Homo sapiens: one gene and its partner. The protein of the gene in region 2 interacts with the protein of the main gene of each other region in a pairwise test. Each region holds a gene or a part of one and is shown on either strand. Other genes may lie near its edges. The genes, in order: SCN5A and EMC9.

Evidence for each region.
Region 1: the proteins of EMC9 (region 2) and SCN5A interact in binary tests that used the Homo sapiens proteins (3 or more experiments, as listed by UniProt).

Annotation. Positions count from the first base shown.
Region 1 is NC_000003.12:38,600,878-38,604,687, forward strand, and holds part of SCN5A (sodium channel protein type 5 subunit alpha), read right to left. Parts: intron 3,207-3,810; coding exon 2,835-3,206; intron 1-2,834. UniProt on the Homo sapiens protein: Pore-forming subunit of Nav1.5, a voltage-gated sodium (Nav) channel that directly mediates the depolarizing phase of action potentials in excitable membranes.
Region 2 is NC_000014.9:24,138,554-24,143,079, reverse strand, and holds EMC9 (ER membrane protein complex subunit 9), read left to right. Parts: upstream 1-1,488; 5' UTR 1,489-1,642; exon of another isoform or gene 1,643-1,763; 5' UTR 1,764-1,775; coding exon 1,776-1,973; intron 1,974-2,114; coding exon 2,115-2,191; exon of another isoform or gene 2,192-3,290; coding exon of another isoform or gene 3,291-3,387; exon of another isoform or gene 3,388-3,412; coding exon of another isoform or gene 3,413-3,465; coding exon 3,466-3,535; intron 3,536-3,625; coding exon 3,626-3,720; intron 3,721-3,883; coding exon 3,884-4,070; 3' UTR 4,071-4,115; downstream 4,116-4,526. Other genes in the region: PSME1 (proteasome activator complex subunit 1), read right to left, coding at 4,436-4,526. UniProt on the Homo sapiens protein: Part of the endoplasmic reticulum membrane protein complex (EMC) that enables the energy-independent insertion into endoplasmic reticulum membranes of newly synthesized membrane proteins.

The DNA of each region.
Region 1 (3,810 bases), on a different chromosome or scaffold from region 2:
GAGATTGACTTCTGGGGTAGTTTGTTACACAGCATTATTATTATAATAGCTGACTAATACACCATCCTAGTCCAGGCAGTCATCTTCTCTTTCCCAAAACCACTGCAACAGCCTCCTAACTGGCTTCTTTTCTTCTTCTCATCCCTGTATTCTCTGCATAGTAGAAAGGGATTCCTTTAAAAAGTAAATCAGATAATGTCACTCCTCTGTTCAACAACTCCTCCCACCCTACTCCTCCCCATCTTACTCACACAGTATATCCAAACTTATCTATGGTCTAGAAGGCCCTGCACAGTCCAAATCCTAACTCATGAAATTCATTTTAATGTTTCACCACACCTGGCCCTGTTAGTCCCTCTCATCCCTTGGATGTGTCCTCCTCAGGGGCTTTGCACTTGCTATTCCCTCTGCCTGAACGCTGTTCCTCTGCATCTTTAGGGCTGGCTCCCTAAAATCATTTGCCTGTCAATTTTAATGTTACCTTCTTGGGAAGGCCTTTCCTGAGTATTCTAATAGCCCTCATCCTCATCCCTCCCCTTAGCAGCTTTCTATCACATGACTTATTGCTACCTGAAAATATTGATCAGTTTACTGTCTTCCTAACTACGGTATAAACTCCAAGAGACAGTGATCTTGCCTTCTTTGTTCACTGCTATAACCCTGGAGTCTCAACACTGCCTGGCACGCCACATGGCAGGCTGGCACTAGATAGATATTGGTTGGATGGATAAATTCTTGGGAATCAATCGGAAGGCTTGGGTTAGAGTTCCAGCTCTGTTCCTAACTTGCTAGGTGGCCACAGGAAATGAGGATGAAGATTTAACATGTAGGGGGAGAAAAGGAATGGATATTCAGTGTGCTTCTCCCACCTCCATCTGGACTTTTGGAACCAGGCAGTCTCATACAAGCAAGGGGCAAAGTAAGTCTTCAGCCCCTACCTCCCAATCTGGATAAACTGAACGTGAGCTGTCTGCTGGGCTGGCCCTTCCTTCCCATCCTTGTTGATTAGGCACCCACAGTGTGCCCAACCCTGTGCTTTGTTTTCAGACTAGAACTGGGCAGAAACGTCTCACTGGGGACCCAGTGGAAGCACAGAAGGCATTCCCAGGGGCCTGCAGCCTGCTAATCTCTTTGACTCTTCAAATGTCTCCATCTTGGTTTGCTAATTCCTTTAACTTTGCAAATGACCCTGTCTTGGCCTGCTAATCCCTTTAAGGTTACAAATGGGCCCCACAGAAGTGAGAATGGGTGAAGTCAGAATTCCTGGTAATGAAGTGCTTGAACTTGGATTCCTCCCGACATGTGCAGTACAATGAGATGATTTTCTCCTTAATGAGATTAGGAAATTCTATTAGCGCTCCCAGCTGCTGACCCGATTCCATGAGGCTGAGGCTCCAGGGCTGAACCTGCCTGGTTCAGTGTTCCTGGAAACTAGACACCCCACCCTTCAGATGGGCCAGGGCCTCCCCAGCTCTACCTAAAGCTGTGGTCTGCCCCCAGGGGTGCCCAGTTTCCTCCCTTCACCCTGTGCTCCAGAGGAGTGTGGGGCCCTGGGCATTCTGCAGTGTACCCCAGGATCCTCACTCCTTCCTGCTTACTAATACCAATAACAGATAATACTAATGGCTCTAAGACCAGGCAAGTATTGGTCTCAACACTGGACCTAGTTGCACTCTTTCAGTCCTCACCACAACTTGCTGGCGTATAATTTTCACTTTACAGATGAGGAAATTGAGGCACAAAGAGATTAATTAACCTGTACCAAGTCCCACAGATTGAGCGAGAGTCTGAGTGGCACAAAATAAGCCACGTGGCTGGGAGCCCTGCATCTTCAGGCCATCCTCCACCTTCCTGGTCAAGCCTCCCATCTGTTCTACCTTCCTCTCCAAGTGCGCTCTGCAGGCCTTGGGGGTTGAGCCAGATGTTCAGCTTTTTCCTGGGTGGGCTGCTCTGGTCACTGTGTTGGGGGCCTGGGGTCAGCAAGGACACCTGATGGCTGATTGGGCAGCCATCAGTCTGTCATAGAACTGACTAAGTGACCAAAGCTCTGATTGGCCTTTCACAATCTGGCCAGTCCCTTCCTATCACCTTTGTAACAGTCACTGCAACTTCTCTCCCCGTCGCTCCCTCTGTTCCAGCCACACTGACCTCGTGGCATCTCCTCCAACAGGCTAGGCAGAGTTCTGCCTCAGGGCCTTCACATTTGCTGTTCCTTGTGTCTGGAACAGGCTTCCCCAGATGATGGTAATGAAGGCTTTACTAGTTGTGACATAGTTAACTATCATCCCTCTTTATCACCATTACACACAATATAGACATTTTTTCTTTTTGATTTTTTTTTTTTTTTTTTGAGATGGAGTCTCACTCTGTTGCCCAGGCTGAAATGCAATGGCATGATCTCAGCTCACTGCAACCTCTGCCTCCTGAGTTCAAGTGATTCTCCTGTCTCAGCCTCCCAAGTAGCTGGGATTACAGGCACGCGCCTCCATGCCCGGCTAATTTTTGTATTTTTAGTAGAGATGGGGTTTCACCATGTTGGCCAGGCTGGACTTGAACTCCTGACCTCAGGTGATCTCCCCACCTCGGCCTCCCAAAGTGCTGGGATTACAGGCGTGAGCCATCGCACCTGGCTTTCTTTTGAGTTTTGTCTGTCTGTCCCCATTAGCATGGATGCTCTATGAGGGCCCAGTTTTTTTTTTGTAAGTTTATGCACCTAGAGCCCAGCACACAGTAGGTGCTCAACAAATATTTGACGTGTATTTTTGGACTTGGCACTGGTGATCAGTTTGGGAGACCAGACCTGCTGTGGTGCCTGCATCTCGGGGCTGGCTCACCGTGTCTGGCGGGTGCTCTAGCATCACAGGGCGGAGGAGGTGGCTTCCTGGGGATGTGGCCTCTGGGTCGCCTGCCCCCAGTAATGAGACCACCCCATTGCAGTCCACAGTGCTGTTCTTTTTGCCATGGAGGGCGTGGCCAGGAGCCGAGGTTCCGGGACTGGGCTGTCCCTGGGCACTGGTCCGGCGCAGGGGCCAGGGCACCAGCAGTGATGTGTGGTGGCTCTCGCTCTCCCCCGCTGTGCTGTTTTCATCATCTGCAAAATCTGCTTCAGAACCCAGGTCTCGCCTGCGAAAGGTGAAAATGCTCCCGCGGCTGGAACGTGGCTTCATAGAAGTCCTGCTGAGGCCACGGGTGAGGCTGAGATGATTCTAAGGGCATGAGGAGAGGGGACACGACCATGACATGTGCTCTTCATGTGCTCCCAGCCTGTCTTTTGTGCCACTGGCCTCAGCTAAACTTCTCAGAGCATTGAGGGCTTTTTTGGCCACACAGGAACCAGGTGGGTTGGGCCGGGGGTATTTGGAAGAGGGGATGTGGGGTTAGAGATAATCCTGTATCTTCTGGGATGTCTACTCCCCTCAAATCTATGTCTCTGGAGCTGGGAGCCTGAAACTTAACTGGGCTTGGAGTTAGAGCTCAGGCTGGGCAAGGGAGAAGGAGGCAGGAAGGCTCCTGGTGTTGCAGACAGGCCCGGCCTGAGGAGGACCTGGGGCACTCGGAATGGACCCTCACTCTTATGGGCATGTCCTTGAACTCCTACCAACCCATACCATGGGGTCTCGTCCCCCAGCCCCGGCTCCAGTGCCGGGATACTGGCCTCAGGTTGGGGATATCACAACACCCAAAACTACCCTGTCCCTCTGCCCAGAGCTCCCCTACTCTAAGGAAGGCCATGGGAAACAGGAAGCGCAGAGATGAGCAACCATGGGGGCTGTGACTGTACAGGGGCCTAGCATGATGGGATTTTCATGC
Region 2 (4,526 bases):
AAAGTCACAGAGGTTGAAGGGCTATCTTCTCCATTGGGTTTATAGTCCAAGTCCTTCACCCTGAGTGCCTAGGGTGGGGATTGTTACATGCCATGGCAGCCATGCAGATAACCTGTATTTTGGAATGTAACAGTATTATTTTCATCCAGAGGTCTCAGGAATTATTGGAAGAGATGGCATTTGCACAGAGCCCTTATGGGAATAATCAGGCTTTGGATACACAAGGGGAAAGTTCTGTGGTCAACATCAGGAATGAAGAAAGAAAGAATCCTCATCAGTTCAGGAAAAGCCTAGAAGGAGAATAAGGTTTCACTGGGAGAACTATGGAGAACTACGGATGAATGATTGGACTCCCCCCACCCTTTTTTTTTTTTTTTTGAGATGGAGTCTTGCTCTGTTGCCCAGGCTGGAGTGCAATGGCACGATCTCAGCTTACTGCTACCTCCGTCTCCCGGGTTCAAGCAATTCTCCTGCCTCAGCCTCCCGAGTAGCTGGAATTACAGGCATGTGCCACCACACCTGGCTAATTTTTTTGTATTTTTAATAGAGACGGGGTTTCGCCATGTTGGCCAGGCTGGTCTCGAACTCCTGACCTCAGGCGATCCACCCACCTCGGCCTCCCAAAGTGCTGGGATTACAAGGCGTGAGCCACCGCGCCGGGCCTGGACTCCCTCCTTAAGGGCTAGGAGGGGAAAAAATAATGCTTCCAAGGCACTGTGGTGAAGGAAATACATCGCAGGACATTATGGGAAGGATGAATCTGTAAGTTTTTCTTACTGTCCTCCCCCATATCCCCTTCAGCCAATCACTGTCTTTATCTCTGCTTTTCAAGATTCAGCCCTGGGCTGGTGATAGAGACAAGGGTTCCTTTGCTGTGATCTTGCTGTAAACTCCATGGGATTGTTCTTTAATTCAGGGCCTTATCCTGTCATAAAATATGAGATAAGAATGTGCTGCGAAGCACTAGACTGGCTGGAAGCCTGCCCCCATACATATCTCATTAAATCCTTAAAGGAACACGGGCAAAAGATAAACCAAGGGCAAGAAAACCTGCAGTCGCGAAGGCAACACGGCCCATTAGTAAGTGACAGAGCCGATCTAGAGTACAGAGCCACTCAACCCATAATAGGCGCAAGGCGGTCTGCTTTGCCCGCAGCGCTCCGGAACACCCGGCTACGGGATAGCGATCCATCCTTGGGGCTCGGCGGAGCGAGTGGTAGTGGGCAACACAGGTAACAGGCAAAGCCAACCACCAACCGAGAGCGGAAGTCGGGGAACCTAGCCAATAAGAGTGCGGGCAATTTTCTGTGCTTCACAATGGTGGGTTCTTTCCAGTCCGCTGGAGACAAAGGCGGGGCAACGTTGGGGCGCGGCCGCTGATTGGACAAATTGAAAGCCTTTAGCCCTATCAAGGAGCACCACGTGGGCGGGACTCCAGGAGCCAGTTCTGCAGGGAGCTGCAGTTTGGTCTGTCTCCCAGGCAGGCGCAGAGTCGCGGCCGCCAGCTAGGGGCGCGGGAAGGCGGGGCTCGGATGCAATCGGGACCTCCTCCTGGACTGGGCCGGGGGCGGACTCCGGGACCCAGGGCGCCGGGAGCCGGCGGGCTACCTGCGAGTCGAGTTAGCGTTGTCGCCGAACCGAAGTGAGAGGGCACGGGGAAGGGTCAAAGAGCGTGCCGAAGCGCTGGAGGGAGCTTCACGGACGCGAGCTAGGCACCGGCTCGCCTAATCCGGTACTAATCCGGCTTGCTGCTTCCCGTCCAGGCCTCGCTCGCCATGGGGGAGGTGGAGATCTCGGCCCTGGCCTACGTGAAGATGTGCCTGCATGCTGCCCGGTACCCACACGCCGCAGTCAACGGGCTGTTTTTGGCGCCAGCGCCGCGGTCTGGAGAATGCCTGTGCCTCACCGACTGTGTGCCCCTCTTCCACAGCCACCTGGCCCTGTCCGTCATGTTGGAGGTCGCCCTCAACCAGGTGCCTCCGTTGGATGCCCATCCCCCACCGCGAACCCACCCAACACCCCAGCCCAAGTTCATCCCCGGTCCCTTGGCAGCAGTGCGCATCCACAAAGCCAGCGGCACAATTTAATTACTGATGGCCCCTTTCCTACGACAGGTGGATGTGTGGGGAGCACAGGCCGGTCTGGTGGTGGCTGGTTACTACCATGCCAATGCAGCTGTGAACGATCAGAGGTGAGTGGCGTAGCCAGAGGAAGAAGGAAAGGATTATGGCGGGTTGGGGATTGGAGGAATAGAGGGCGAGGATGCGTGGGGCGGTGGGCGGGGCGGGGGCGCACAAGATGAACCAAGGTCGTTCCTTTTATCTTTCCTTCATCAAACGCTTAGGAGCAGGGGCTTTACACCAGGCACTATGCTGGGTACTGGAGTGAGGGAATATAAAGATGAATAGGACAGAGCCCTGCCCTGGAGTGCCGTTGGGGCGGGGAGGACAACTGTGTATCAACAGACTGATTTTTTTTTTTTTTTTGAGACGGAGTCTCCCTCTGTCTCCCAGGCTGGAGTGCAGTGGCGCAATCTCGGCTCACTGGAACTTCCACCTCCTAGATTCAAGCGATTCTCCTGCCTCAGCCTCCCGAGTAGCTGGGATCACAGATGAGCGCCACCATGCCCGGCTAATTTTTTTTATTTTTTTAATTTATTATTATTTTTTATTTTTAGTAGAGATGGGGTTTCGCCATGTTGGCCAGGCTGGTCTAGAACTTGACCTCAGGTGATCCACGCGCCTCGGACTCCCAAAGTGCTGGGATTACAGGCGTGAGCCACCACTCTCGGCCAACAGACTGATCTTGCTTTAACTGAGGTGTCCCCCAGGGGCTGAAAGAACAGAGAAATCCCAACCAGCAACTTCAAAAATAAGGCAGTTTCCTTATATATATACATATAGGAAAAGACATATATATATATATATATATATTAATCATATACATGGAGCAATTAGAGGTACTGTTTTGTAATTTGCGTTTCTCCCTCACTTAATAAATACTTGACATCATCCCATTTCCACACCAAGATCTACCGTAACAGCTATATAGTCTGAATATGAATGTACTCTAATTTATTTAATACTTTAAACATTGAGGTTGTTTCCAGTGTTTTATTACAGACACTGTCCTATGATTACCATAAATTCTTTATAAGTAGAATTTCTGGGTCAGCATATGTATAGTATGTATACAGTTTCAATTTGGATGGTTATGCCAAATTACCTTCCAAAAAGACCACCTTTGGTTTCCACTCTCACCAGCAATATCTGAGCACCTGTCTCCCACAGCACTCAAGCATCAAGCAGTCGTGCATCAAGCATCCAGCAGGCCCGATCCCCGCAGGCCACCTACAGGGAAAGGCCACAGCTGCGCCCACACCTATGAGACCTGGGAGGCCCAGCTCAAATGGATGGGTTTTGCCCACAGTTGGCTCCTCACTCCTCTGATCTTCCCTCTACACAGCCCTGGGCCCCTGGCCTTGAAAATTGCTGGGCGAATTGCAGAATTCTTCCCTGATGCAGTACTTATTATGGTGAGGCTTGGGTTTCTGGGTGGGGAGGTGAAAAGCAAGTAGGGTGGGGGGACCCTTGAAACTCTCACTTGCCCATCTTTGTCCACTCAGTTGGATAATCAGAAACTGGTGCCTCAGCCTCGTGTGCCCCCGGTCATCGTCCTGGAGAACCAAGGTCTCCGCTGGGTCCCTAAGGATAAGAACTTGTGAGTACCCCACTCCCTCTACCTCTTCTTAGAAGCCCAAGGCTCCTGGGTCTCCTCTGTCCTTGGCCCTGCCCCAAGGGTCTTTCTCTAGACCCAATCTCTGTTAAGTCTGTGTCTGGACCCACTACTTGCTGTTTGACCTCCATGGGGGTTACTATTTCAGAGTGATGTGGAGGGACTGGGAAGAGTCACGGCAGATGGTGGGAGCTCTACTGGAAGATCGGGCCCACCAGCACCTTGTGGACTTTGACTGCCACCTTGATGACATCCGGCAGGACTGGACCAACCAGCGGCTCAACACTCAAATCACCCAGTGGGTTGGTCCCACTAATGGAAATGGAAATGCCTGAGCCAGGGCCAGCGGGGCCCGGTTCCAATAAAGAGACTTGGGCTGATGGGCAGTGGTATAACTATATTTATTGTGCCTGAGAGGCAAGGTGAGGGAAAAATCTCAACAGAAGCAAGTTTGGGGAAAATCTGGAGTCCCCAGTAAAAAGCAGGAAGGTCTCTGCTGTACTCATCACAGAATGGGAGAGAGGGCTCTCAATAGATCATTCCCTTTGTTTCTCCCCTGGGCTTCTTGAGCTTCTCGAAGTTCTTCAGGATGATGTCATATAACACAGCCTACAGGGCCAGGGAGTAGAGGTCAGTCAGAGGCCTCCAGTGGCTCTGTGCCCCATTTCTAGCCTTGTGGAGAAGCTGAGCTTTGTCACCCTTAACCCCTAGCCTGCAGGGTCAGGGAGTGGGTGGCCTGGGAAAGCTGCCTCTGCCCACCCCTGCCCTGCCCTTGCCTCCTCACATAAGCA